3 separate regions of the Homo sapiens genome follow, and regions 1 and 3 are each linked to region 2. The links come from fine-mapping of genetic effects on gene expression. A gene starts in region 2. Each other region holds a variant in brackets. All regions are shown on one strand. Distances are between the middles of the regions.

The links. PIP is the estimated chance that this variant, and not a neighbour inherited with it, causes the effect.
Region 1: its variant is fine-mapped to the expression of HERPUD2-AS1 in whole blood (INTERVAL, PIP above 0.99).
Region 3: its variant is fine-mapped to the expression of HERPUD2-AS1 in monocytes (Quach 2016, PIP 0.95). The same link has a PIP of 0.9 or more in monocytes after LPS, monocytes after Pam3CSK4 and monocytes after R848.

Annotation. Positions count from the first base shown.
Region 1 is chr7:35,711,379-35,721,735 of GRCh38, forward strand. It overlaps LINC03013 (long intergenic non-protein coding RNA 3013), which reads left to right and starts at 5,059. Exons shown (of 2, transcript NR_108083.1): 1 at 5,059-5,490; 2 at 7,692-8,334. The variant G/A (reference allele first, on the strand shown) is at 4,496.
Region 2 is chr7:35,690,264-35,700,620 of GRCh38, forward strand. HERPUD2-AS1 (HERPUD2 antisense RNA 1) reads left to right here and starts at 4,943. Exons shown (of 1, transcript NR_136255.1): 1 at 4,943-9,150. HERPUD2 (HERPUD family member 2) reads right to left here and starts at 4,872. Exons shown (of 9, transcript NM_022373.5): 1 at 4,538-4,872; 2 at 3,921-4,364. The coding sequence starts at 4,067. RefSeq lists an enhancer at 4,011-4,898 and a silencer at 4,341-4,750.
Region 3 is chr7:35,660,959-35,671,315 of GRCh38, forward strand. HERPUD2 (HERPUD family member 2) reads right to left here. Exons shown (of 9, transcript NM_022373.5): 4 at 9,257-9,370; 5 at 6,476-6,630. Among named protein-coding and RNA genes, the nearest start is that of HERPUD2, 29 kb to the right of the region's middle. The variant T/C (reference allele first, on the strand shown) is at 4,381.

The DNA of each region.
Region 1 (10,357 bases), 21 kb after region 2:
CACAAAACCCTACATAGCCTTCTGCAATTTGCTATTTTTACCTAACATTTTATTTTTAAGATTAAATACTACATTTATTTTTTTTAATATAGTAATGCTACATTTACCATCAGTCTTCGTTCGCTTTAATTTAGACCTGAAGCTCAGTTTTCCCTATTTTTGCTTGTTCACTGCACAGTCTGGCCACATAAAAATTTACATCTACTGGAGAAAATGAAGGATTGCAGACAATTTCTTGAAATGCAGCTATGATTTTAATCTTATCTGTTTAGCATGAAGAAACAGATTAAGAAGAAAGGCATATTTTCAGAATTTATTATATAGTTTTGAAAGATAAAGACATATGTATGTTTATGTTCATCGCAGCACTACTCACAATAGCAAAGACATGGAATCAACCTAAATGCCCATCAGTGGTTGACTGGATAAATAAAATATGGTACATATATACTATGGAAACCTATGCAGCCATAAAAAAGAATGAGATCATATCTTTTGCAGGGACGTGGATGGAGCTGGAGGCCATTATCTTAAGTAAACTAACACAGAACAAAATGCCAAATACACAATGTTCCCACTTATAAGTGGGAGCTAAACAACAAGAACACATGGATACTAGAAGGGGAACAACAGACACTGGGGCCTACTTGAGGGGGAAGTGGGGAGGAGGGAGGGAATCACAAAAGAATACCAATCAGGTAATATGTTTATTACCCAAGTGACAAAATTATTTGTACAAAAAACCCCTGTGACACACAGTCTACCTATATAACAAACTTGCACATGTATCCCTGAACCTAAAATACAAAAAACAAAAAGCAAAATAAAAATAATCTAAGCTATTCAAGTAATGACCCAAAAGTTCTTCTATATGTTAGGAAGACCAGTAAATGCATTACTAAGCAGCTAGGCTGAGATAAGGGTGAGAGAAAGAGAGCTTTGGTGCTAGGATTTAATGGTCCTGTAGTCTAGTCCTGACTCTGCTGTCACAGTTTATTTAACTTCTTTGGGCTCTCAATTTTCTCTATAACATTAATCAGTTGGCCAGGCTCAGTGGCTAAAGTCTGTAATACCAGCACTTTGGGAGGCCGAGGGGGGTGCGGATCACCTGAGGTCAGGAGATCAAGACCAGCCTGGCCAACATGGTGAAACCCCATCTCAACCAAAAATACAAAAATTAGCTGGGTGTGGTGGCACGCGCCTGTAATCCCAGCTACTCAGGAGGCTGAGGCAGGAGAATCGCTTGAACGTGGGAAGCAGAAGTTGCAGTGAGCCAGGATCATGCCACCGCACTCCAGCCTGGGCAACAGAGTGAGGCTCTGTCTCAATAAATAAAATAAAATAAAATATAAAATAAAATAAAATAAATAATAAAATAATAAAATAAAATAAAATAAATAAAATAAAATAAAATAAATCTGTTGGACCAGATGTCCTTGGTGCTAATTTTCAATGATCTGTGACATCATAAAATAAAAAATATAAAGACTAAAAATTTATTCTAGCTCACATGCTTTCATTTTCTGTATGAAATAAATTTTCATTATGATATGTTGGTGAAGAAAGTACATAGTGTATTAGTACCCATTTCTCAGGACACAGAGTATATTTAACTAACTTATTATATAGCCATGTAATTTTGCCTACATTGCACATTTTGTTCACATCTATACTTTATTTACTTCTGAGTCCTTGCTGATAGGCCTCTCTCCTGATTATGATATTGCTTTTGTGGTGAAATAGGATCCACTTCCATGATCTGTGCATTGGAGATTCAGGAGCACATTGTAGAGACTTCTCGATGTAGGTGAATGATAAGGACTACGGATGTAGGCATACTGTGTTAGAATCACCTGCAGATTATTTGGCAGTTTTTAAAATTATTCCTGGGTCCTTCTGTTATAAGGATAGGGCCCTTTACTAAAGCTGCAAGCTGCAGAATCCTCCTCAATCTTTTTATTTTTTAGCTTTTATTTTTTTTAAGCTACTCCTGCTGGAATGGGAACCTCCTCAATCTTTATCAGGAAAACAACAATAACAATCGAATTTTAGAGGTTTTTTGAATTCCTGATCACAGATACAAATAATTAGTGGTCTGGAAAGTAGTTAAGTGTAATAAAAAATATAATGTTCCTTATAACATTGAGAGCTTTATAGTAACACAAAGGATGCCACACCCAACCCACCTCACTCATCCTCCCGCTGTTAACAACCCTGGTCCGCAATTTCAAAAGAAATGGCCTAAAATTCTTTTTAAACCATCATTTACGTTGAAGCCAATTTAAAAGTGTGATCAGGGATATAGACAACACAAGTGCTAGAGCTATAAAATAAATTTTGGTGATTGCCCAGGCATTTAATATCTTTTTTTAACCAATATTCCCTTTCTAAAAATATAAATTTATATGAATAATGGATTATTTATAATGATTTGTCTTTGAGTAACCCTTTTCCCCTTCTTTGTCATAGAGGGAATAATCCTAATTTATTGCTGGGGGAGTTGTCCTATATTGTCTTATTTCAAAAAGAAACAATCTACTTTTGTGAAAAGCCATCCTAGCATGTAACATTTTAGCACACTGTTTCTCAAGATGTTTGCACTCACAGACACCAATTGTATCATGTCTTTGGGATATGATAAAATTATGTTTAAAATTCATGTTAAAGCTATAGGGTTTTTTTTTTTTTCTGATCTACGTATCAGCCTTACCTCCACGGACTTCACTAATTATATTTAAGGAATTAGAAAACTTCCTTCCTTAATTTTATTCTCATTAATTTTTCTAGGACATTTATTAAATAAAATGGGTTGTTAAAGTATGTTAAGTGTGTAGGGCATGTAACCAGTCAAATGTCAAGGTTCTGAGTAGGTTGGATTTCATGGTCAAGGATAATCTCTTTTAATATTCACAATCTCATTCTTACATATTCCCATCTCCCCTAAGTCTTTCATTTCACTTCTATTCATTCCTACTTACTCCTACTAATATCTCCGTTTAGATTCTCTCATCTGACCTTTCCCACACCTCTTGCCCCACAGTAAGTTTTATTTTCCCCTCTTAACACTAATCACATCTACTCTGATTTGTAGACATTTTTCACCTAAAGCCCAGCAAAGGAAACACTGTCAACCTGTCAAAAAAAAGTGCTGCAATTGTGGAGGACAGATAAACAGGTGGTAACAAAAGCATTCTAGTGAATCTGAGCCAGGCTGGGAACCTGCTGGGCTGGCCTGACTCAGAGGTGGTAAGAGAAGGCAACAGGAGGCAGGAGGCAGCCCCATCACTGTCCGTTCCCAGAGCAGGAATGAGGAGGGTGCTCCCCACCCCAAGGCAGCAAGGGGGAAAATTCTCTAAGGAAGAGTCCCAGCAAGATCAAATATCAGTGCCATGTCCAAGGGGTTAGAGAAATAACCAAAGTCAGTGTGGTAGGGCCATGAGTTTACCTTATGGTTTGGCTTTATGTGGGTATATGGAAGTGCCAGCAGTGAGCTGAGAGCTGCCAAGAGAGGCAGAAAGCAGGTGTGTCAGAGATTTGGGGCCTCAATGGAAGTGAAATGTGATGGCAGAAGAAGACACCACAGGAGTTGTTGAGGCATTGGTTAGGAAGTGAACAGCAGAACTGGCAGAGGCTGCTGGGCCTGTTGGGGTACCAGGAGTGACAGAGAAGACTGGCAGCTGCAGAGCAGGACAGACCAGATTGGCCAGTACAACAGCAGAGGGCCATGTTGGGCTTTGACTCAGGAATCCTGGTGGAGGCAATGATGAGAGAGAAGAGATAAAACACACTAGGTAAGCCAAGGTAGTTGTCAGGATAGAAGGAGACAGGCAGGCCAGATGGCTGTTAACCGTGTGGTGTGTCCCAACTTTCCAGCATCAATTTAATGGCCAAATTAAAATGTAAGTCAACTTAAGCCAAGGTCAATTTTAATCCTATGCTTTGCTGGTGATACAGAATCATTAACGGTATCAATAATGCCCACATTCAACTCATTCTACAATGGGGGCAATTGTAATTTTGGTCTGGATATGTTTAACAAAATGGAAAGGAAGAAGGCAAAACCACGGAACTATTTTTTTTTTTTCTTTAGACGGAGTCTTGCTCTATCTGTCACCCAGGCTGGAGTACAGTGGTGCGATCTTGGCTCACTGCAGCCTCCGCCTCCTGGGTTCAGGCAATTCTACTGCCTCAGCCTCCCGAGCAGCTGGGATTACAGGTGTGTGCCGCCACGCCCTGCTAATTTTTGTATTTTTAGTAGAGACGGGGTTTTACCATGTTGGCCAGATGGTCTTGATCTCCTGACCTCAGGTGATCCGCCCGCCTCAGCCTCCCAAAGTGTTGGAATTACAGGCGTGAGCCACCATTCCCAGCTGGAACTATTTTTTTAAACTGATGCACATTAATAAGATTTAGAAAATCTTGAGATTTAATGGACAGTGTTGAGATTCATATAACTTTATGTTGAGAATTCTCTTTCCAGGAATTATTTATTTCA[G/A]TTAGTCACATTTTTATCTTCTACTGAAGTGTAAACTTAATTTAGTGTAAATAACTACCATTTGAATACTAACATAATCTTTTTATTTGTATAAAAAATACAAAAAGATTGTTTATGTGTGTGTACACATATGTGTCAAGACTAAAAATTAAGCACGGGGTAAAGTCTTTGGCAAAGGACAAATAGTCGGCAAGTTCACAGATTAGAATTTAGAATTCCATCATGAAGTGGACTAAATTGTTAGTTTAAAGAAGACTGTGAGTGTCAGCACATAAAAAGGTAATCCTGTCTCAATTGTAGCTACAGATTGCAAGTCCTGTGTCAATTCAAATTTTTGCCAGCAGATACTAATGACTTCATTGAAAGCAGATGTTTAGAAATGAAAGTATAAACACAACCCCAGTTGATTAATATGCTTATTGTATTTCCTTGTTGTGAGTCTAGCGAATATTTGATTATCTTTAAGTTGATCCATAGTATATTCAACAGTCTCATGAGAACATAATTTTTGTTGATGATTTGTCCAAAGTTTCTATCAATCCATCTTAGCAGCAGAGCCAAGTGTTAGAGTTATTGCTGCCTGAGTTATAACAGCTGCCCTGGGAATCTTGTCTGAACAACAAGTTAACTGCTGTTCCCAGTTATATCTGGTCTTTCCCACCCCCAAACATACACAAAAGATTTTTGTCATTCTTGGCACTGGACAACAGAAGTGATAAGACATGCCAGCAGAACTCTAAAGGCAGAATGTCCTTCCACCTGTTTTATGCTGTAAGACAAACTTCCAAGTGCGAGGCAGTGTGGAGGGCTGTTGCCTTGAATGGCAGCTGAATGCACCAGCGGGATCCTTGGCAGCAATGCCCAGGCACTGAAGTCGGGCATTCAGGAGAGCTAAATGGAGAAAAGAAACTTGAGCAAACTGCTTCCTGGAACACTGAGAACCTGAATGGGAAATTAAGAAGAACCAGATTCTTTCTATTCTTCCACCAGCCAAGGTCAGATTTCCAAACTTCTATTGATTCTAATCTTTCCCAAACAGTGCTGTGGCAATGTATGAAAGTAATAAAAATAATCCTTTTTCTGTTAAAAAAAAAATTGCTGTTACTTGCTGTTTTGTTATGCTTTTGCTGGAGATTTTCCCACCCATCTTAAAGCAGCAACTTCAGGATGGGGGAATCAAGCAAAACCATGGTGAAGAGATTCATTTAAAGAGGACAAGTGATTTATTCTACATCTCAGGAGACAGTTCCTTAAGGTGAGAGGTGTTGCCTATGCCAACTTGCTTATTGCCTCTTTTGATGTTATCTTAGCAATAAGCTGGGGCTAATCGTCCCCAGTTTGGGAGACTTTGAGGCAGGGCTAACTGCCACAGTAAAAGACCCATTAACAGTAAGGAGGGTAAATGGATAGCAAAAAACCTAGGAGAATCCACAGGCTTTTGTTAATTTTATTCTATCTGCCTGGTGTTTCTGGAACTCTAGTTTCAAAGTTAGAATACCCAGAATCCCAGCAGCTGAGGAAAGTAATAACCAGTGTCTGGGGGCGAGGGTGGGGAGGGAAGCGAGGGTATAAAGAGGATGAGAATTCTTCTAGTTATTTTCAGTTTTTACTGAAACTGAAGCTTTCCTGAAACTTTAAGTTTTTAGGAAACTTAAAGATAATTGTTTGTTTACTTAAAATACAGCCTCAAGGATACTTTTAGTTTAAAAAAATTTCTTGACTACTTGATTTCCTCTTGGGAAGATTATTATTTAACAAAAATATGTATTTATAAACAAAATATTTCAGAACAGGAGTCTGTGGAGAAATAGTCTTAAAAGGACTTTTCAGCAGTGATAAGATAAGAAACACTGCCCTAAAGAAAACTGTTGGCTGGGCGCGGTGGCTCATGCCTGTAATCCCAGCACTCTGTGAGGCCAAGGTGGGCGGATTACCTGAGGTCAGGAGTTCGAGACCAGCTTGGCCAACATGGTGAAACCCCGTCTCTACTAAACACACACACAAAAAAAATTAGCCAGGCATGATGGCGCATGACTGTAATCCCAACTACTTGGAAGGCTGAGGCAGGAGAATCGCTTGAACCCGGGAGGTAGAGGTTGCAGTGAGCCAATATCGCACCATTGCACTCCAGCCTGGGCAACAGGAGCAAAACTCCATCTCAAAAATAAATAAATAAATTAATTAATTTAATTTAATTGTTTAAGGGGTGTCATTTTCCAAATTGTTTTTATGAAAAATTTACAAACAGTGGCTAGTGTCCCATTGTACTGTGTATCTAATTCAGTAAAAGTACTGAAGATTCAAAAAGATTGTTAGAGTGGTTGTGGAAAATTCCAGAGCTGCTGTCACCAGCAGAGCCTTCCTTTACTGAGTGTCTCAGTGCCAGTATAACAAATCCTAGACACTGGCTTTATTGGCCAGTGGTGCAAAGAAATAGTAAAAATTCAATAAAAATATTGCTTGAACCAGGAAGCCTCCTCATAGAGTTGTGGACTCTTCAGAGAGGTTTTACCAAAGTAAGGGCAGAATGTGTATACCGTCTTTCAGGGATTCAAGAAATGTAGGCAACAATGTCTATTATTAGCCCTCCTCTCCTTCCATGAGCAAAACCCAAATTACTTGTTTTTAATTGGCACAAAAGCACATTCAATCATTACATTATCAGACATTGTTCATGTACCTATCATATGCCAGGCTGTGTGCTAAGAGCTGGGGATCTGAAGATGAATAAAATGTACCCTGCCACAATCAGGATTGGCAACAACTGACCTAGGTGGCTCACCTGCATTGTCTGGATAACAAGCCAATTGGCACCTGAGGCCCCCAACCTTATCCCCACAGGAGGGGTTCGTCCAAACTGCTCATGAGACCAGTTTCTCCCTTCCACAGACCCCAGTGCCTTCAGGTGCTGAAAGTTGACTTTCCCAGGCAACTCAGAGAGCTGGTGTCTAACCCCACACTGATGTTACTCAATAAGTCTGATTACCCTCCCACCCACTAGGTTGTTCTCACTCTTGCCCTATAAGAAGGAGAGCAGCAAGGGGACAAGGAATGCCCACCGATGGTGTGTCCAATAGATAACTTTGGCCCATCTCTTATCTTTATTTGTTAATTCTTGCTTTGTAACTTTCCCCCAATAGAGCCCATGAGATTTCATGGAAATCATCACAAAATAACAAACCTTTTTGCGTGACAGGTGATGAGCACAAAAGGATCCATCTTATACAGTGCTTGCCAGCTTCCATAATACTACTCACCACGATGTTGAAATCACCTGTTCCAGAACCAGTCCTGTCCTTTGACAAGAAGGATTTAATTATCAGTAGTGGTGGGGACTGGCTGGAGAGAGGAAAAACACTTCAAGGACTCTGCCACCTTTCGTAGATGGAGAGTGCAAAGTTTGTACCATGGAACTCCTTCTCTAACAGTTACTCTGTGGCAGTGCCTATTTCAAACCTCCCTTAACTTCTGATTGTATAGATGTTTGTTTCATTTGTTCATCTGTTTGTTCACTTAGTCAGAGATGTTTTAAGCCTTAAGAGAAATAGTGGACTAGAAAATGCCTTGGAAAAGTACAAAGTTCAATCCAAGTAAACTGTTTTTAAACTAGGAATTTATGAAGCCTAAAATATAAAATGTATATACATGGATATGCTCTGAAGTGAGGTAGAGGGGTAGAAATCAACATTGTGATATTGTACTATAGTTTTGCAAGATGTTACCATTGGGGGAAAATGTTTGAAGGGTATACGGGATATCTCTGCCTTATTTCTTACAACTGCATGTGAATCTACAGTTATCTCAAAATAAAAATTTAATTAACAATTGATTACAATTAACAGCATTAATTTCTTATCCTGTCATTTTCCTTCTCCTGAAATTGCAGAATAGCCAAACAGAAACCTACCCATGACCACCATCTGAGATTCTTTGGTGCCCGTATTAGTGGACATAGGCAGGTGTATCAGGAGGCATCCAGTCACGCATACTGGAAGATACTGACTCAACTGATTTAAGCAAAGGAAAATACAGTGTATTATATAATGAGACATCTTGAGTAGGGTAGTCCTAGGGTCAGTTGATTCAGCAGCTTGATTGATAATCAAGGGCCCAAATTCTTTCCCACTTTCTACCCTGCCATCCTCAGCCTATCAGTTTCGTCCTCCAGCTGGCTTAAAGGTAGTTGCAAGGTGGCTGCTATCATGCCATGCAAAATGCAAATGCAAAAAGTATGCAGATACAAAAAGTATCTCTTTTCATAAGTCTCATTTTAAGGGCAAGGAAAAACCTGCAGGCCTTTCTGCCACTCTCTTGACCCACTTACTTAACTGTGGAACAAGTCACAAACACCTGTTTAAGTGGATCACTTGGCCAGGAGGGAGAGATTGCCATTATCCTTAGATGGAGGAGAATGGGGGTGGGGGTTGTTATGCCTGAACATAATCAGTGCTCTGCCAGTGAGTAAGAGCAGAGATGGGGTGATTAATAGGCAACCCCTCACCAAGGAGCCATTGTAAAGCTTCAGGCCAGTTCAGAAGGTGATGAAGATGGAAAGCCTCCAAAGCAACCAGAACAACCAGAAGGAACACGCTTTTACAGCTTGCTTCTGATTCCACACCGCGAGGACAATGGGTCCAGCATGCCACACTGATCCAGGAACTTAGAACTAAGTAAGAAGCAAGGGAGAGAGGCTGCTATAGCTGAAACCCAGAGAATGAACTTTCTCCCAGGAGGTTGCAAGGGCTGCCCTTGTAAAAGATCCTGTCCTGGGTTTAAAGGTTAGCAAATTTTCTGTTTTGTTTTGCTTTGACTGCATGAGGGTTGAGTTAAAGTGAAATAATATTTAAGACTTATTTTTTAAATAAGATATTTTATGTTTTTATTTTTGTTTTTTTTTTTTTTTTTGGTTGGTAGAGACAGGGTCTCACTGTGTTGCCCAGGCTGGTTTTGAACACCTGGGCTTCTAATCCTCCTGCCTCAGCCTCCCAAAGTGCTAGCATCACAGGCATGTGCCACCACACCCAACCCCTTAAAAGTCTTTTTACAAATGAGAACATGAACAATTGCCTTTCAGATTATTTCCTGGTCATCAAAGATTTCTTTCTTTATTTACATAAAGGGGACAGGGGTCAGTCTGTGTATTGGAAGATGTGCCCATATTTGGTCACATATTGGAAGAGTACAAAATTGCCCAAATAAGGGATATTTATTGCCTTCCTGACTGCAGACTCAAGGAGGCAGGAACTTTGACATTTTCTCCAATGCCTATCTGTATCCACATTGCCTGTAACATAGTATATGCTCAATAAATATTGATTGAACTAATTAAAAAATGTCATTCTCTACTCCCAAACTATAAAAACCTGGAAGGGTATATTCTTGCTGGATGGGAGCCTGAAGAAGACAGGAAGGGAGCTAAAGATATCTCTCTTAGTCATTCTCTGTGTCCGACATATGCCCACATGTATAGTCCTAAATGCCACTGTCTCTCAGTTGGTTTCTATCAGGACCTAAGCCCTGTGGAGACAGCAGCTTGCAGAGTCTCTAGCCCAGGGAAGCAAGAGGTGGGCCAGATGGAATCCCCCAGCTCAGGGAAGGTCTTACCTATCCATGCATTTGAGGAAGGAGGAAGTGGGACAGTCATTCACCAGTCTAAATCTTACTGCTAAAACTAGACCGAGTGCTACATCTCCAAATCTGGAGGGCCAGGATATCTGTCACACAGGCAGGCCAAAAATTGTTCTTCCCAGGGTGGGGACAGTGGAAGCCATATAAACACTTGCCAATTAGTTCATCTACATTTTAAAAAGGTGCAGAAAATTCTTGTTCCTTTCCGCTGGAGGAACTTTACAAATGACCTTG
Region 2 (10,357 bases):
CCTAAACCAAGTCTTAAACCAATTATCAATATCATTCAAAGTTAACTCCAAAACAGCTCAACTCCACATCCGAGGTTTTTAATTATGACTTTGTGAACATTTTCACAAATATGGCAACTGCCTAAATTCCTAACCAGAAAACACCTTTCCCTTCACAGATCATTAAGGATCTATAATCTTTTTACCTAATACTGTATTACTAAGTAATATACTAATATAAAACAAAGTCATCAGTGCAAACATTAACTCCAAAAGAATAGTTAAGGCCGGGAGTGGTGGCTCATGCCTGTAATCCCAACACTTCGGGAGGCCGAGGTGGGTGGATTACCTGAGGTCAGGACTTTGATACCAGCCTGACCAACATGGTAAAACCCCATCTCTACTAAAAATACAAAATTAGCCGGGCGTGGTGTCACATGCCTGTAATCCCAGCGACTTGGGAGGCTGAGGCAGGAGAATTGCTTGAAGGCGGGAGGCAGAGGTTGCAGTGAGCCGAGATAGCGCCATTGCACTCCAGCCTGGGAAACAAAAGCGAAACTCCGTCTCAAAAAAAAAAAAGAACGGTATAAAAAAGGAAGCTATCAGAGTCTGATTCTTGTCTGCTTAAAACTGTAATCAACTCTTTAAGAAAACTTAAATGTCCCCGTGAATCTTTTCTTGAAACAGCTACACATTCCCCTAACCCCTACTCCAGAGATGATCATTCCCTTCCTGTGTTCCTATGCAACACACAGAACATCCCTCCTGTATAATACTAGTCACATACTATTACGCTTATTTACTTACATGTCACTGGATCTGAGCTTCACAAAAGCAAAGGACTCTTACCATCATCTTCACACTTAGCATAAATATTCAAATGCTAGGCCAATAAAATCCTAGTTATATAAATAAATGAAGACCCAAAAAAATGTGCTTTGAGGGGGAGGGGTACATTTGTTCTAAGTTTGCTAGGGGAGGGAGAAGTGAATTTAATATACCCATATGGAGACTGTGATTAGTCAAATCAATATCTGACCATGAAGCTAGGATCCCAAGATTTTACAACTTCATAGAGTTCAGCCAGAATTCCATTAACAGCATATAGACATATGACCTATCTTTGTAGGATCCTAAAAGGACAATCTCAAATTTCCATTCTTTCCCCTCTAGCAGCACCAATTTATTTTCCTAGAAGCCACTGCCCACAGGAACAAAGTCCCTCCACCTACTCCTGACCCATCAGATCCAATTAGAGCAATGTTGATGAGAGCCATCAACTTTTTACTTACTGGGGCACTCCTGTTCCTACAAAGCACTGGAGCCCTACTCTGCTAAGTCCACACACTGATAATGAAAGTAGGCATATGTGCAAGGAAGATGCACAAGAAATTATCTCTGTTAAACATAACAGCACTTGAAAACTAAAACACAGAATCAATGTTTAGTCATTGCAGGCGGTCAGAAAAACCTAAACTTCCTTTATAATATTACTTAATAGCAAACTGTGCTGAATTCTAAATAATGACCTTACAAAGTAAACTTTTAGGACTCCAACTCCTATGCTGAGGACTACCTATGGCTTTGCGATACCATTAAACTGCTGCTCAACAACTGTGATGCTTCAAATCAATTCTCACGTGATAAGAATGTAAACTTACTAAATCTAGTAACTATACAAAGTTTTCAGTGAAATTCTATGACGATAAACACACATACCCCCACCGCTCCAGAGCTCCACCCACTCAACCTAGAAATGAAAGTCAGACATTACAATTCACTTAAAGAAAACTTGTCAAAGGAGAAAAAAAGGTTTGCCATGTTAATCATTAATAGGCTGCATAGTATTTGGTTTAGCCTCCAAAAGTGTCTCCAGTGTGGCTACAGGAGGCAGGCAGTTTGGGAAGGAGTTCTGTAACAGATCTCATCCTCAGACAGCTAACTAATGCACAGCGGCACTGACATCCTCCACTAGTGATCAGTGCTGCACAGGCAGACCTCCTGCCAAAAGCAGGCCTCTTCATGGGTAGATAAGGCAGACAGGCTTCCCACTCCCGTCTCAGGTACTTTTTTTTAAAAAAGCTTTAGAAAAAAGTCTATAAACTGCAGACTAGGTCCCTTTTGGTTTAATAGTACAATGTAAAGATCTCGCCTACGTACATACCAGAGCATATATTTGCTATGAACAGTATTATGGAAGTCTATGACTTTCAATTGACTATCCTAAAAACCTATTTTCCACTTCAAAAATGTGTGAAACTAATCATATGCAACAGGAAATCTTTTGTAATCAAGGTATTTTCAAACAGATTCTTACTCCCTGTGTAAATCTTAACTTTCAAACAAAAGATGTGAATAAACAGGGGCTCTAACTAGTTTAAGTACTTAAATTCCTCAGGGTTTTTTTTCCCTCCTACTAAAAATATTTGTATCACAAAGTACTGATAAACACAGCTAATGCCGATTAAGAGTTGTTTTTCTAAACCTCCTGTTTTTGCAATAACCGTCCTATTTCTGTGGTTCTTCTGCAAGTCTAAAAGCCTAACTAAACTTAATACTACAACACTGAAATGCTCATAATTCATTAATATCGTAATATAGATCAAGTGTCTTCCTTAACTTAGGTGCATAAAACAAGTGTTAAGTGTAGAAAGCATAGTTGCCTTCCAACAGATCCATGCTTAAATGTACCTGATGCCAAAAGTTATTTCCCACCCTAAAATCCGACCCTCTTTATTAAACAAAAGTTTTAGTAATTAAACACTACTTATTCAAGAATAAAAAATGTATACAGTGGAGAATGCGAAAGCCTCACTTTCATATACAGTACTCTACATGACGGTATACTTCTTTTCTAAACTATTCCAAGACTCCTTGATTACCAACCACGGCCTTTCAAATCTGACTTTGGGGACAGATGGAGCTGTACTGTCTATATTTTATTTATTATCTCTGCAATATCCAGTTATGATTCAGAATGGAACACAGAATGGAAAAGCCATATGAGAGGGATGCACCAAATGGTGGTGGGGTGGAGGGCAGTTCTCTTTTAAACTAATGTCCATGTATCCTCTACAGGAGAAAAATGTTGAAAGGGGTTGTGGTGAAAACGAATCTACAACTTATAATTCTTTGGTCCTTGAAACATATATAGTAACCTTGAAAGTATAATTTTTATAGGGGACACATACTTATTTCTAAGAAAAAAAAATCTTCAATTTCTGTTTAAGTTTCTGGGCCAAGTGTTGAAAGTAAAATGGAATTTTAGTGTAATAAGCAATAAAAGCTCTGATACGGGTTGTAGTGCTTTATCTTTTTTTTTTTTAAGAAAGGATATATCTCTCACTCGCATATTAGGTTGATGACTTTAAGTCCAAAGAAAGTAGTCCCTTTTCCATGCCTGCCAATTCTTTGAGACAGAGTCTCACTGTGCCACTCAGGCTGGAGGGCAGTGGTGCGATCTTGGCTCACTGCAACCTCCGCCTCCCGGGTTCAAGCGATTCTCCTGCCTCAGCCTCCTGAGTAGCTGGGATTACAAGCATGCGCCACCACGCCCAGCTAATTTTTGTATTTTCAGTAGACATAGGGTTTCACCATGTTGGTAAGGCTGGTCTCGAACTCCTGACCTCGTGATCCGCCCGCCTTGGCCTCCCAAAGTGCTGGGATTACAGGTGTGAGCCACCGCGCCCGGTCTTTGCCTGCCAATTCTTAAGTCCCTTGATATTTCTGCTTCCTCTTACTAATTAACTGAACCTCATCAGGAAAATATTAATGATGGTTCGAACACTCAGGAGACACAACCTCAGAACTCAAAATACCTCGCGGTCTACCAAAAGAGACCTATTTGATTCAAGACTGGAGGGGAGAAGCAGGAAAAAGGAGGGTACACGGCACGAAAAGCTGCTGGTCAGAGCAGCTGCCCCCAGCTTTTACACACTTACTGGTTTGCTAGGGTAAACGTTAGATAGATGCGTTTTTAGTTTCCCCACGGTCCAGTTCAAGAAGCAGCTAATAGTCTGGTCACTGTATTTCTGATTCGGTGCTTTAATGATGAGGGTCACAGGAATCTCCATCCCACTTTGGTCCATGGTGCCCCCAAAGTCAGACAGAGTCCAGAGGAGCGGCAGTTAAGCCCAAAAGAGCCGAGATGGTCACCGCCGGCGCGACTGGGATGAGGACAGAAGTGAGTTCTTAGTATTCCGTGTCCAAGTCAGTTACAAGTGCACTGGAGGATACGAAGCCCATTGCCGGTACCAAGGATGGACTGAGGTGGTGGCGACTGCGACGGTGGGGTCTGGGTGCCCGGCCGTGGAGGCAGCTCTCCCCGCCAGGTCCGGGCTCCGCCGGGCTCCGGACTGTGGAGGCCGTCGTGAGGAGAAAGGAAGCTATACGAAGGAAGGGTGGGAGGGATGAGGGCACAACGGCCGGCCCGGGGTCACTGCCCCGCCCCACCGCGACCCCCAAGCTGGAACGCAACAAGGCCCCTACGCCACGGCCCCGCGGTGCGGATCGGGGAAGCAGCTGGGCCGCTCAGGGCGGTCAGCGGGCACTGGGGTACCTGAGAGAAGGCCGCGGGGCCCGCCACCGCCGCCCTCCGCGCCCAGGCAGGGCCGCCAGCCACACCGTCCGGCCAGGCGTTTTCCGTGGCAGCCGCTCCCTTCCTGCTGCGCGGCGACCGGCACGGCCCAGCCCCGGGTCTCGCGAGGAGGCGCGGGTGAAAGGGAGAGAAGCTGACCGAAGGCGCGGCCCGGCTCTCCGCCTGACCCCTCAGTCTGGACAGCGCAGGGTGGCGGCAAGGCAGGGCTGGGCCGGGGGCGGCCCAGGCGACTACAGGTAGCAGGAGGGCGGGGACGAGAGCCGTTGCGCCACCGCTGGCGCGCCGGTTTTGTTGTTATTGCGAGGATTGTCTGGGGCCCCTTTAAGCCGGAACAGGCAGGGCGGAAGTGCGTCACCGGCGGCACGCCCCTGCACATGGACCTCCCCCGTCCCCGCCATCCCTGCCGATCCTGTTGCTGCCGCCTTCCCGCCGTGCTCGGGCTGCCCGGGACTCTAGCCGCCAGGCTTCGCGTCGCCCAGCGGCAGATCGGGCTCCTGGGAGCCTCTCCCCTGGCCGTTTGCTCGGCCTCGGCCCCAGCTGCCCTGGGGCCTAGCCACTAGCTCCCCTGGCGCTAGCCTACCCTGTCTTGACCGCACCCTGAAGATTTGGGAAGTCTTTCTCCATCCCAAGAGTCGTCTCTGCAAAAGTTGGTGTCCTTCCTGGTGCTGAACCACGCTTCTGCTCAAAATGTGTTGAGCGTCGTCTGTCTGCAAAGCACGGTGCCAGGAGCTTTGGTGGAGAAGGCATGGGGTACATGTGTAAAGAGTACAGGCTTTTGGTTAAACCTGAAGTCCTCCTCTACTTTCTGGGGGACCCTGGCCGTCCTTGCTGAGCCTCCGTTGACTTCTCTAATGGGGACGGTAATGCCTACCTGACCACAAGCTGATGAGTAAATGAGCTATGAGTGCAAAGTGTGGTGCAGTTCTGGCGTGTGCCAGCCTCTCAAGTGTCAGTTTCCGTCTCATTCCTCTTAATCTTCACTAAAATGGACAAGTATTCATTGAGCACCTAATGCGTGTTCAGTATGGTGGGAGATGAGGGATGACAGTATTATTTTTCTATTTTATAGGTTAGACATAGAACAAAAGGTTGAGTCTATTGCCCATAGCCGAACTTTTCTTCATTTTCTACTGTGGTTTAGAAGTCGGTATAGTAAGTTAAGGGTTGTTAGATGTGCATTTTCACAGCTCCCAGCTTCCACTTAGGAGTAGATAACATAGGGGACTTTGCGAGCTGGTCTCTTTCCCTCTTAGCTTCAGAAGGGCTTCGAGGTAGCCACCACTGAATTAGTTGAGAGACAAGGCACCCCTACGGAGGAAATCTCAACTGCACAACCCCTACTGTGCCCCAATTCAGCAGGAAGCAGTTAGAGCGGTGGTCAAACCTCCCCAATAGCACTTGGGTTTTCCTGTTGAGAGGGGGTACTGAGAGACAGGACTAGTTGGATTTCCTAGGCTGGCTAAGAATCCCTAAGCCTAGCTGGGAAATTGACCACGTCCACCTTTAAACACGGGGCTTGCAATTTAGCTCACACCCGACCAATCAGGTAGTAAAGAGAGCTCACTAAAATGCTAATTAGGGAAAAACAGGAGGTAAAGAAGTAGCCAATCATCTATCGCCTGAGAGCACAACAGGAGGGACAATGATCAGGATATAAACCCAGGCATTCAAGCCAGCGGTGGCTACCCTCTTTGGGTCCCCTCCCTTTGTATGGAAGCTCTGTTTTCACTCTATTAAATCTTGCAATTGCACACTTTTCTGGTACGTGTGTGTCACAGCTCAAGCTGAGCTTTCGCTCACCGTCCACCACTGCTGTCTGCCGCTGTCACAGACCCACAGCTGACTTCCATCCCTCTGGATCCAGCGAGGCGCCCATTGCTGCTCCTGATCGGGCTAAAGGCTTGCCCTTGTTCCTGCAGGGCTAAGTGCCCAGGTTCGTCCTAATCTAGCTAAACACTAGTCACTGGGTTCCACGATTCTCTTCCATGACCCACAGCTTCTAATAGAGCTATAACACTCGCCGCTTGGCCCAAGATTCCATTCCTTGGAATCCATGAGGCCAAGAACCCCAGGTCAGAGAACACAAGACTTGCCACCATCTCGGAAGTGGCCCGTCACCATCTTGGAAGCGACCTGCCACCATCTTGGGAACTTGGGGAGCAAGGACCCCCAGTAACATAGTGACCAGGAGGAAATTCTTCCTCTCAACAGCTAATGCAGCAGGATCTCTTACACCGTACCCTCCCTCACCTTGCTCTTGCTCTTCATGGTAGAACACGTACCATATCTTAGCTGTACTCTATCAACTGCGCATCTGAAGTAAAGAGTGAAGTCTTCTTTGTTTCCAGTCATGGAGCAACAACTTGCTATGATACTGGCCTTCTGTAGCTGACTCTTCTTTGTCTACCCAGGCACTCTAATGGAACTTTAATTCTAGCTAAAGTTATTTTCTCAGACTCCTTTGAAGCAAGGGGCAGCCATTTGACACACTTCAAGCCAATGAGTTGAATGTTGAACTTATTGCTGAGGCTTCTAAGAAAGCATATAGATGGAAGGGCTCTGCGAATCAGAGCTCATCTTTGCCCTACACCTGTCTTCCAGGAGGAACGTGAAGAGCTACAGCACTCATAGTTCAGTCATGAAACAACAAACAGGAGAACAATGGCCTGCATTCCAAGGATGGCAGAGCAGAAAACTGTAAAGAGGCTGGGCATTTGATGGCATTGTGGTGCCACCAGACAAGCCCTAAGCTATCTTCCCTAAGACTTCTTGTTTTGGGTCAAATTCCTGTTTAAGCCAGGAAGTTTTCACAACCTTCACCACCCAGTCCTGCAGCTGTTGTCTCATGCTTGTGACTCAGACTTCCAGGAATCCTTTAGAAGTGATGTGGTGATCTCGTTTGGCACTATGCAATGTACACTATTAATGAAGGTACCCTAATAATTATAAATATTAAGACAGAATGTGCATTTCACAGTGATTTAAACACTCTTTAACACTCTTTAAAACAGTCCATCAAAGGTTCGCTAACACAGAGAAAAACATTTAAAATTGTAATAAAGGCTGGGCGCAGTGGCTTGCCTCTAATCCCAGCACTTCAGGAGGCCGAGGCAGGCAGATTGCTTGAGCTCAGGACTTTAAGACCAGACTGGGCAACACGGAGAAACCCCGTCTCTACAAAAAAATTCAAAAATAAGCCGGGCGTGGTGGTGCACGCCTGTGTTCCCAGCTACTCTGAAGGCTGAGGTGGGAGGATTGCTTGAACCCAGAAGGTAGAGGTTGCAGTGAGCTGAGACCATACCATGCACTCCAGCCTGGGTGATAGAGTGAGACTCTGTCTCAAGAAAGAATAAAAAGTAAAAATAAAATTGTAATGAACATTCAAGAAATTGAAATATACGGGTACAAAGATGATATAGTATCAGAAAAAATGATTTTTTTTAAATTTTACAGCCACTTGAATTAAGTACCTAAAAATGCTTTTGATGCTGTTGAGCTTGGCTATGATAACAACAGTATGTAAATATTCCACTTTTGTTAAAATATGTATAAACAGGTATGTGTACAGAGCAGTGTATGAAAGGGTGGTCCCCAGAATATTGATAGTGTTTGACGTGGAATTTGGGCTAGGAAAAATAATTACCAATGAGGAGATACAAGATAGCAGCAGTTAGGGAGAGGCCGTCCATGCAGCTGCCTATTTAAATCACTGTCCATGTTAACAGATAAGAACTGGAAATGTCAAAGAACAATTGCCCAGCTCAGTTACCATCTGCTACTAAAGATAGCCCCAGCTGGGTGCGATGGCTCACACCTGTAATCCCAACACTTTGGGAGGCTGAGGCAGGTGGATCACCTGAGGTCAGGAATTCAAGACCAGCCTGGCCAACATGGTGAAACCCCATCTCTACTAAAAATACAAAAAATTAGCTAGGTGTGGTGGTGCATGCCTGTAATCCCAGCCACTAGGGAGGCTAAGGCAGGAGAATTGCTTGAACTCTGGCAGCAGAGGTTGCAGTGAGCTGAGATTGTGCCACTGCACTCCAGCCTGGTCGACAGAGTGAGACTCAGTCTCAAAAAAAAAAAGCCCGTAATGAGAACTCTCAAGAGTACCATGGTAATATAATATGGTAATAGATAATAAAAGAGTCATGATCATTAATAATAAATATAATACTTCTACTTCAACTGAGGAATGGAAAACTAAACATCATATGTTCTCATATGTCCCTAAGCTATGAGGATGCAAAGGCATAAGAATGATACAATGGACTTTGGGGACTTTCAGGGAAAGGGTGAGAAGGGCGTAAGGGATAAAAGACTACAAATTGGGTTCAGTATATACTGCTCGGGTGATGGGTGCACCAAAATCTTAAAAATCGCCAAAGAACTTATGTAACTAAATACCACCTGTTCCCCAAAAAACTATGGAAATTAAAAATTAAAAAATAAGTATAATTTCTGCTTTAGCGATATTAACTATTCAGTACACAATAAGTGAGTTTAGCAATTCAGTGATTTCTGACTGTTGGGTAGCTCTCTTTGTTAACAAATAAAATATAAATTTGAAGAAACTTATTTGTAAATAATGGTTTTCTGTGAATTAATGGGATGTTTGTTTACTTCCACTTCTTCTTTGAGGTGTAAAAGAGAACAGCTAGAAAACACATATTGTGGCTGGGGCGGTGGCTCACACCTGTAATCCCAGCACTTTGGGAGACCGAGGCGAGCGGGTCACTTGAGGTCAGGAGGTTGAGACCAGCCTGGCCAACATGATGAAACCCCGTCTCTACTAAAAATACAAAAATTAGCTGGACATGGTGGCACGCACCTGTAGTCCCAGCTATTCAGGAAGCTGAGGCAGGAGAATCGCTTGAACCCGGGAGGCAGAGGTTGCAGTGAGCCAAGATCACACCACTGTACTCCAGCTTGAGTGACAGAGTGAGACCTCCATCTTGGGGAAAAACAGTAAAAAAAAAAAAAATTGATTCATTCAGTGAGATTACAGTTTCCTTTAAAAATTCAAAGTAAGTGCTTGTCACTGAGCTTTTCTTACTGAAATTTGGAGTACCTTCCAGGAAGCTAAAATACTTTTATGATGTTGAATAGTATAGTTTGAGTTTGTTAGCTCTCTTGGAAGGAAAGACTTCAAGTGATGATCTTGCGGTTTCAAGTTTCAGAGATGATGTTGGCCATCTGGCTTCTGATTCCATTCATTTCTACTTTCACCATCCTTGTCATTTTTTAAAGAGACTGTGTCACAAAGCATCTAATCAAATCTTAATCAAGTTTATTGTTTTTAAAAAATGAAAACCTACATTGGAAGCCTAAGAAAATTAGCTCATTTCAACACTCTACTTTAAAAATCGTAAATGGTCCCAGATGTTTGATCACAAGTCATCTTGTAGGAAATGAAACAAAACCATTCATTAAATCCCAAATGGTGTTTTGAATTATATGTCATCTAATGAATTCTTAGAACAGTCTCGAGAGATAATGAGGACACTGAAGCTCAGAAAGGGTAAGTATCCTGCCCAAAATCACACAGTAAGTTCCAAATAGAGCTCTGTCCCCACTGTAATGCACACACTTTCCACTACACTGAACTTTATTACTTAAAGATAATCATGGGTAACAAGACACATTCAGGAGGAAAAGGCTTTCAGGAACATCTTAGAGATCATCTAGATCAGTCTTCTAGGTACTGCCAGAATGAATCAGTCTTACCACATCTCTGAAGGGTGATCAGCCAATTGACATAGCTCTTTCCAGAGACAAGGA
Region 3 (10,357 bases), 29 kb before region 2:
TATGTCCTGAATGGTATTGCCTAGGTTTTCTTCTTGGGTTTTTATGGTTTTAGGTCTAACATTTAAGTCTTTAATCCATCTTGAATTAATTTTTGTACAAGGTGTAAGGAAGGGATCTAGTTTCAGCTTTCTAGATATGGTTAGCCAGTTTCCCCAGCACCATTTATAAAATAGGGAATCCTTTCCCCATTTCTTGTTTTCGTCAGGTTTGTGAAAGATCAGATGGCTGTAGATGTGTGGTATTATTTCCAAGGGCTCTATTCTGTTCCACTAGTCTATATCTCTGTTTTGGTACCAGTACCATGCTGTTTTGGTTACTGTAGCCTTGTAGTATAGTTTGAGGTCAGGTAGCGTGATGCCTCCAACTTTGTTCTTTTGGCTTAGGACTGACTTGGCAATGCGGGCTCTTTTTTGGTTCCATATGAACTTTAGTTTTTTCCAATTCTGTGAAGAAAGTCATTGGTAGCTTGATGGGGATGGCATTGAATCTATGAATTACCTTGGGCAGTATGGCCATTTTCACGATATTGATTCTTCCTATCCATGAGCATGGAATGTTCTTCCATTTGTTTGTGTCCTCTTTTATTTCGCTGAGCAGTGGTTTGTAGTTCTCCTTGAAGAGGTCGTTCACATCCCTTGTAATTTGGATTCCTAGGTATTTTATTCTCTTTGAAGCAATTGTGAATGGGAGTTCACTCATGATTTGGCTCTCTGTCTGTCTGTTATTGGTGTATAGGAATGCTTGTGAATTTTGCACATTGATTTTGTATCCTGAGACTTTGCTGAAGTTGCTTATCAGCTTAAGGAGATTTTGGGCTGAGATGATAGGGTTTTCTAAATATACAATCATGTCATCTGCAAACAGGGACAATTTGACTTCCTCATTTCCTAATTGAATACCCTTTATTGCTTTCTCTTGCCTGATTGCCCTGGCCAGAACTTCCAACACTACGTTGAAAAGGAGTGGTGAGAGACGGCATCCCTGTCTTGTGCCAGTTTTCAAAGGGAATGCTTCCAGTTTTTGCCCATTCAGTATGATATTGGCTGTGGGTGTGTCATAAACAGCTTTTACTATTTTGAGATACGTCCCATCAATACCTAATTTATTGAGAGTTTTTAGCATGAAGAGCTGTTGAATTTTGTAAAGGCCTTTTCTGCATCTATTGAGATAATCATGTGGTTTCTGTCTTTAGTTCTGTTTATAGGATGGATTATGTTTATGGATTTGCATATGTTAAACCAGCCTTGCATCCCAGGGATGAAACTGACTTGATCGTGGTGGATAAGCTTTTTGATGTGCTGCTGGATTCAGCTTGCCAGTATTTTATTGAGGATTTTTACATCGATGTTCATCGGGGATATTGGTCTAAAATTCTCTTTTTTTGTTGTGTCTCTGCCAGGCTTTGGTATCAGGATGATACTGGCCTCATAAAATGAATTAGGGAGGATCCCCTCTTTTTCTATTGATTGGAATAGTTTCAGAAGGAATGGAACCAGCCCCTCTTTGTACCTCTGGTAGAATTCAGCTGTGAATCCGTCTGGTCTTGGACTTTTTTTGGTTGGTAGGCTATTAATTATTGCCTCAATTTCAGAACCCGTTATTGGTCTATTCAGGGATTCAACTTCTTCCTGGTTTAGTCTTGGGAGGGTGTATGTGTCGAGGAATTTATCCATTTCTTCTAGATTTTCTAGTTTATTTGCGTAGAGGTGTTTATAGTACTCTCTGATGGCCATATTTCTGTGGGATCAGTGGTGATATCCCCTTTATCATTTTTTATTGTGTCTATTTGATTCTTCTCGCTTTTGTTCTTTATTAGTCTTGCTAGTGGTCTATCAATTTTGTTGATCTTTTCAAAAAACCAGCTCCTGGCTTCATTGATATTTTTGAAGGGTTTTTTGTGTCTATCTCCTTCAGTTCTGCTCTGATCTTAGTTATTTCTTGCCTTCTGCCAGCTTTTGAATGTGTTTGGTCTTCCTTCTCTAGTTCTTTTAATTGTGATGTTAGGGTGTCAATTTTAGATCTCTCCTGCTTTCTCTTGTGGGCATTTAGTGCTATAAATTTCCCTCTACACACTGTATTAAATGTGTCCCAGAGATTCTGGTATGTTGTGTCTTTGTTCTCATTGATTTCAAAGAACATCTTTATTTCTGCCTTCATTTCGTTATGTACCCAGTAGTCATTCAGGAGCAGGTTGTTCAGTTTCCATGTAGTTGAGCGGTTTTGACTGAGTTTCTTAATTCTGAGCTTTAGTTTGATTGCACTGTGGTCTGAGAGACAGTTTGTTATAATTTCTGTTCTTTTACTGAGTAAATTTGTTATAATTTACTGTTCTTTTATTTGCTGAGGAGTGCTTTACTTCCAACTATGTGGTCAATTTTGGAGTAAGTGTGATGTGGTGCTGACAAGAATGTATATTCTGTTGTTTTGGAGTGGAGAGTTCTGCAGGTGTCTATTAGGTCTGCTTGGTGCAGAGCTGAGTTCAATTCCTGGATATCCTTATTAACTTTCTGTCTCGTTGATCTGTCTAATGTTGACAGTGGGGTGTTAAAGTCTCCCATTATTATTGCGTGGGAGTCTAAGTCTCTTTGTAGGTCTTTAAGGACTTGCTTTATGAATCTGGGTCCTCCTGTATTGGGTGCATATATATTTAAGATAGTTAGCTCCTCTTGTTGAATTGATCCCTTTACCATTATGTAATGGCCTTTTGTCTCTTTTGATCTGTTGGTTTAAAGTCTGTTTTATCAGAGACTAGGACTGCAATCCCTGCCTTTTTTTTGTTTTCCATTTGCTTGGTAGATCTTCCTCCATCCCTTTATTTTGAGCCTATGTGTGTCTCTGCACGTGAGATGGGTTTCCTGAATACAGCAGATGGGTCTTGACTCTATCCAATTTGCCAGTCTGTGTCTTTTAATTGGAGCATTTAGCCCATTTACATTTAAGGTTAATATTATTATGTGTGAATTTGAGCCTGTCATTATGATGTTAGCTGGTTATTTTGCTCATTAGTTGATGCAGTTTCTCCCTAGTATAGATGGTCTTTACAATTTGGCATGTTTTTGCAGGGCTGGTACCGGTTGTTCCTTTCCGTGTTTTAGTGCTTCCTTCAGGAGCTCTTGTAAGGCAGGCCTGGTTGTGACAAAATCTCTCAGCATTTGTTTGTCTGTAAAGGATTTTATTTCTCCGTCACTTATGAAGCTGAGTTTGGCTGAATATGAAATTCTGGGTTGAAAATTCTTTTAAGAATATTGAATATTGGCCCCCACTCTCTTCTGGCTTGTAGAGTTTCTGCCGAGAGATCAGCTATTAGTCTGATGGGTTTCCCTTTGTGGGTAATGAGACCTTTCTCTCTGGCTGCCCTTAACATTTTTTTCTTCATTTCAACTTTGGTGAATCTGACAATTATGTGTCTTGGAATTGCTATTCTCGAGGAGTATCTTTGTGGTGTTCTCTGTATTTCCTGAATTTGAATGTTGGCCTGCCTCACTAGGTTGGGGAAGTTCTCCTGGATGATATCCTGAAGAGTGCTTTCCAACTTGGTTGCATTCTCCCCATCACTTTCAGGTACACCAATCAGATGTAGATTTGGTCTTCTCACATAGTCCCATATTTCTTGGAGGCTTTGTTCATTTCTTTTTACTCTTTTTTCTCTAAACTTCTCTTCTCACTTCATTTCATTCATTTGATCTTCAATCACTGATACCCTTTCTTCCATTTAATCAAATCAGCTACTGAAGCTTGTGCATGCATCACGTAGTTCTTGTGCCATGGTTTTCAGCTCCATCAGGTCATTTATGGACTTATCTATGCTGTTTATTCTCGTTAGCCATTTGTCTACTCTTTTTTCAAGGTTTTTAAGCTTCTTTGTGATGGGTTCAAACATCCTCCTTTAGCTGGGAGAAGTTTGTTATTACCGATTGTCTGAAGCCGCCTTCTCTCGACTCGTCAAAGTCATTCTCCATACAGCTTTGTTCCGCTGCTGGCAAGGAGCTCATGTTGCTGCCTAATCCTTCCTCTGGAAGCTTCATCTCAGAGGGGCACCCAGCCTTATGAAGTGCCAGTCGCCCCCCTACTGGGAGATGCCTCCCAGTTAGGCTACTCGGGGGTCAGGGACCCACTTGAGGAGGCAGTCTGTCTGTTCTCAGATCTCAAACTCAGTGCTGGGAGAACCACTACTCTCTTCAAAGCTGTCACACAGGGACATTTAAGTCTGCAGAAGTTTCTGCTGCCTTCTGTTCAGCTATGCCCTGCCCCTAGAGGTGGAGTCTACAGAGGCAGGGAGGCCTCCTTGAGCTGAGGTGGGCTCCACCCAGTTCGAGCTTCCTGGCCACTTTGTTTATGTACTCGAGCCTCGGCAATGGCAGATGCCCCTCCCTCAGCCT[T/C]GCTGTCGCCTTGCAGTTTGATCTCAGACTGCTGTGCTAGCAATGAGCAGGGCTCCTTGGGCATGGGACCCTCTGAGCCAGGCGCGGGATATAATCTCCTGGTGAGCCGTTTGCTAAGGCCATTGGAAAAGTGCAGTATTAGGGTGGGAGTATCCCGATTTTCCAGGTGCAGTCTCTCACGGCTTCCCTTTTGTAGTAAAGGGAATTCCCCGACCCCTTGCGCTTCCCAGGTGAGGCGATGCCCCGCCCTGCTCCATGGGCTGCACCTATTTGTCTGGCAAGCCCCAGTGAGATGAACCTGGTACCTCAGTTGGAAATGCAGAAATCGCCCATCTTCTGCATCGTTCATGCTGGGAGCTGCAGACTGGAGCTGTTCCTATTCGGCCATCTTGGCGCCACCTATTTCAGATTTTTCTAATCAGCTTAATATACTTCGAAGAGCTGAATGCTTTTGTCTTTTATGTTTATTAATTTTCTCAATAGCCTAGTTTAGAGAAATTATTAATCTTTTACCAATGTATCTATGGTCTTATTCTGAAGACCTGTAATCTTATAAGCTTGATTTGTTTATTACAAAATATATTCACTGTAAGTAAGAGAAAGAGTTATAAATTTTATCCAGAGATAACCACTATTAATGTGGCACTATATATTTTTCCAGGCTTATTTATAATACTCCCACCTTCCACCACTACCACCAAATAAAATAAGTAAAATCACTCTGTATAAACTGAGAGGAACTTACTCTGTGAAAAAGAAAGGAAGTGAATTACTGTCATAAGACAAAGTATTTGAAGCTACTGTTCCATAATATAAACCCTGAGAACACTGCTTTTTACAAGTAAATCTTGGTTTATATTAATAGTAATCACTTTCTGAAAACAAAAATAGTTTCACAGGTACTTTATGAAAGTCTACAACCAGCCTCATCTAAACATTTATTTTGAAAGAAAAGGCTTCACATTTAAGAAATCTGAGACAAATTAGTTCTCTTCTATTTGCTATATATTCAGCTTTGTTTTTCTGTATTAATAACTGAATTAAGTTTAAAGTTCTAAGTAAAAAGTACCTGAGTGTTTATGCCGTCCTGTTGAGCACAGCAGTCAATAGCTACTCCTTGGTTACACCACCTACATTACAATTCTGAGGTCCTAGCCATATTCTCATTTCTAGCTCCATCATCATGGATCCAGACCAGTGCCACACACTGCAGCCCCATGGCTTGATACGCAACACAGAAATTATCACTATCTGTTACTCAAGCTTCCTTTACCTCAAAAATAACAAACAATAATACCCCAGTAAAACAGTCTGCTTTCACACACAACCCTGGTCCAAACCATGTTCTCCAAGATCCTACTCTCTAAGCTGCTTTACCTGTGGCTGCATTTCCTCTGGAAGTGCCTAACCCAAGGGGCCTGCTGTAATTGCTAAATATAGGGTGACTATGGCAAGCTTCTTAAGAAAACTGCTTTATAAAACTCTCAATACAACAAAGATTCTGGACAACATGCAGCAAGATTAGCATATCCCTGTAATACATCATGGTTTTACTCTAGCACAGTTGTTACCAAGTTGATTAGAAACACTTGTGGAACGTTTAAAAACTTTTAAAAACAGATTGCTGGGCTCTGTACTCTTTCAAGTATACCTTCACTCAACCACATTCCCCTAAACACTAAATTGAGTAGATCTATAGTGAGACTGAGTAAAAAAAAATTAGTTACGTAGATCCTTGCTATTCAAAGTGTAGTCCAAACATCAGAAGCATTAGCATCATCTGGGAGCTTGTCAGAAATGCAGATTCTCAGGCCCCATCATACCTATTGAATACAAACCTGCAGCTCAACAAGGTCTCCCGGTGATTAGGACAAACATTCAAGATTGAAAGCACTGCCCTACATGATTCTCATGTGCAGCCAGGTTTGAAAAGCAGTGCTCTTCTTAACCCTCTAGTTCTCAAAATACAAAATCAAATATATGAATAAATTTAAAATGTACTTTAATTACTGCAAAGAGGCTATAGTGAAACTCAAAAGCAATTCATTTTTAGGGGGCCCCAATCACATTCCATAGCTACCACAATTTCACTTACCCTTGCATTACATATGGAAACTGGTGACTCTGTGCTTGGTCAGTTTGTGCTTGTGGAAGGGTACGCTGCCTCAATCCTTCTGAGGAAGAACCCACAGCTAAAGACAAGGTTTCTTGACCAGATGATGGAGTTGTTGATCCTGAATGATCTGAACTCTACAAATAAAAATGTAATTTTTAAAAGGAGATTTAGTTCTTTACAATCATAAAATTACAGGCACATTACTAAAAACGTATTCATGAAATCCCTCTGCAAAATAACATTTCAGAAATTTACTGTTTTACATCGTGTGTCCAGTATAAGTAGATATTTTAATTTTAGTACGTCAAAACTTATCAAAACTGCTTAATTAAACTAAAATATTCCATTTTTTCAACTAGAAATGGCCGAGGAGCAGAATAATAATATACAAAAACAGCATATTAAATTCTGAGGATTAAGTTAATGCATAAAAAGCTCTTTTCACATGATTAAATTAATGCATGCAAAGCTCCTTTCATGATGCCTAACACATACATTTATTGAAAGTGTTCAATAAATGGTACTAATTACTGAGTCATTTAAACAGTTACTATGTGCCAAGTACTGTACAACATGCTATTGTTAACATATTGATTTAAAGTAATGAGAAACAGGCTAGAAATCCTAGAAATCAAAAGATCTAAAATCTAGTGTTATCTCTGACATTAACAAGAGTTATAACCTTAAAGGTTCACTTAACCTCTCAGAGTTTCCACTTTCCTACAGAAAATGAGATTGGACTAAATTTTCAAGATTCCTTTCAGTTCTAGAATTCTATTAGTTTATAGAAATCACCAACAAATATTGCTTTTTTACAAAATGAACTACGAGAATCAAGATGTTAATCAGTATTTTTTTATTCTCATGCTCAAATCTTTTTATTCTCGTGCTCATGGATTCAGTAACCATAAACAATATAACTCCCTGAAGACCATCCCAATTTGTTTGAAAATAGTTTGTCAAGTGTTTCATGTACATTTAAAACACAATTACATTTTACATAAATTATAGTTCTTCCACTTTAAAAAGCTAGGTACAGTATTATTTTAACATCCTTCCTTTAACAATTTTGTTAAATTGTATTTTACCCGTACTGCCTTCCTATTGACAGGATGTCTTTTTGCATGACTCCCATGCTAAGTCCTGCAATGTGAAAGGTCCAAAACTGTCTTTTGCAAAACAGTCCACACCAGTCTTTTGCAAGACTAACAAAAACTTTTAAAATGTTACTTCACACACAATAGATATCAAATATCTTACTAAGGAGTCCGGATTCTTAGGAACATAAACTGGGAAAGGTTTCTTTTTCAGCAAGATTTCTCATTAAATGGGCCATCATAATACGGTGTTCATTAATACAATTATTAGAAGAAAAGCCTAGTCATTTGGCAGCACAACCTAATTTCTCTAGAACTAATGATTTCTGACCTTATTAGGTAATTATTTTATGATTAGATCTTTAAAATATTTTCAAGTCCCTTGAAATTTCTGAACCATGAAAAATTAAGGTGAATTCAACTTAACATTCCTTTGATACTTTTCAGGCTTTCATAACACTGAAAAAAACAAATATACACACTAATGACACAAAATCATGGCTGAGCAACCCACTGGACAAGTCAAAGTCAGAGGGTTCTTTCCCAACAAAAATTGAAGCAATGCAACTGTGTCCGACGACTACAAAAAAAAACTCTGTGCCAATGCCAATGTCTGTGCCTTTCCATGCCAAGGCAGGAAACATACAAAGACCCTTGGGTGTTTTGACAAGGCATATTTTATTTAGTTTAATGTAAGCTAAATTCCCATGGCTGGTACTAGGAAATAGTTACCATTAAGAGAATACAAATTAAATACAGCAACTGGAGAAGCTAGTTTCTTAAAGAAGCAGTTAACTAGTATCTATTGAGAGAGTTTTCAACTAGCTCCCACCCCTGTCACTTGTGCTCTCTTTCAAGCTTTGGCTGGAGTCTTGACAAGGAAAGCATACTTAGCAGTAGAAAAGTTCCCTGACTGCTCAAGAAGTTGAAAGCAAGCTTCCACTCATCCAATCCTCTCACCTGCAAAGGTGTCATAGAAAGCTTTTATGGGAAATCAAAAATAACATAAAAGGATTGGGGACAATGTTTTTGAAATTTGTAGAAAATGTCTAAATTGAGAAGGTCAACTATTACAAAACATTTCCAAAACAATTTTAGGCAGATGGAAAAATAAGGATGGAGGAATGAATACCCAAGTCTGAAAGAGATTAATACATTAAGTATTTCCTCCCCAAGCAGGTGGAATGTACACCCAAATCCAGTCATTTTTAAAAAACAAAATCCTTGACCAAGTCATCTACTTCAAGAAGATTTAGGGTACTTAAATTTTAAACAATTTAATCCACCTTGAATAAAATATACTATTTTAAATACCTGGCATATTTCTGAAACGTCATTGGCCTAAGAGTTTATATTATATAACCGTAACATAATTCCGTTTTCTGAGTATTCCAGTAATTAAACCTTTGAAGATTAAATCTATTACTGACCTGCCATACAGCAAATTATAACTCAAGGTGAATAGACTTCAAGGGATAACACTGCGTATTAGATCTTTCAAAATGGTAAACTTTACAAAATGCCTAACTTTAGTTCAAAACACAATCTCAAAATTCACAAGCTCCAATTGTTCTGTTTTTCATTTAGTTTTTAGAGGCAAAAAATAAGACGACGACGAAAAAAAAAGAAAAGTTCAATGTTTACTCCTCCCAAAACAACTCACAGAATTGCTGCTGGATGCCAATGCTTCATGACTTTCTCTATTGGTGCTGGATTTTGGAGAACTGGGAGGAGTCCGAGAAGTACATACTAGATGAACCATATGATACTCATCTTGCTAAAATTAAAGAAGATTACATTTAAAGGGTAGTACTACAAAATGTACAGTTCAAAAAGTCAGTAGCTAAACTGAAATACCTAAAACTTAGGTCCCTTTCGAGCCTAGCCATTTAATTACTGATAAATTGTTATCATTTGAAGGTAAATTTGTCATTTTATTTGTGATCCTTTTGAATTCAATATTTTCTCCATACTTGGAAAATGATCTAAATACTCTGCAATTGCTGGGTTAAAAAATTATTTTGCATACGAAGCAGTCTTAAAGCAAACAATGTTGTGAAAGTTGTAACAGCACAATCTATAATTTCAGCATGAAAACATCTAGCACCTTAAACTTTTTACAGTTTACATATTTCCATCACTTGAGGCTTAGCAACTATAAAATAAACTCAAATAACTTCATCATAATCACATTTGCCTTAATTTTAGCAAGGTGATTTTTTTTACTCTTTTTTTCAGTCAAAAACTATTTTTATCTATAACACCTATACGCAGATATAAAGCATACATTTAAACTATATTCTGTAAATATCCCATGTTTTTCCATAAACCTAGAAATATGACTGAAGAAAAATATTCCAAATAACGATTAGGGTTGGCATTTTAGCTTAGTGAGATCATAAGCATATTTATTTATACTTAGACATAAAGCCAGCAAATAAGATGGGGAAAGGAAAGAAGGAATAAAGGAGGACAGAGAACAATGAAGGATGAGTCAGCTAGTTTTTTAAAAAGAAAAGAACAGAATGACAAAGAAAAAGGAGCAGAAAGAAAGATAACCAAATGGGGAGAAAGGGAAACAAAGCTACTAGAAACTATGAATGTATCACTTGCCTACCATGAACCTATAATTGTGCTTAATTTGGAGACAAATCCAAGAAAGGGTACAACAGGCCCTTCCTTAAAGAGGCTCATGATATTGTTAAGAGGGTAGACTAGTGCACTACAGCACAATTAGAGAAACACAGAGAACAGTCTTTTTTTC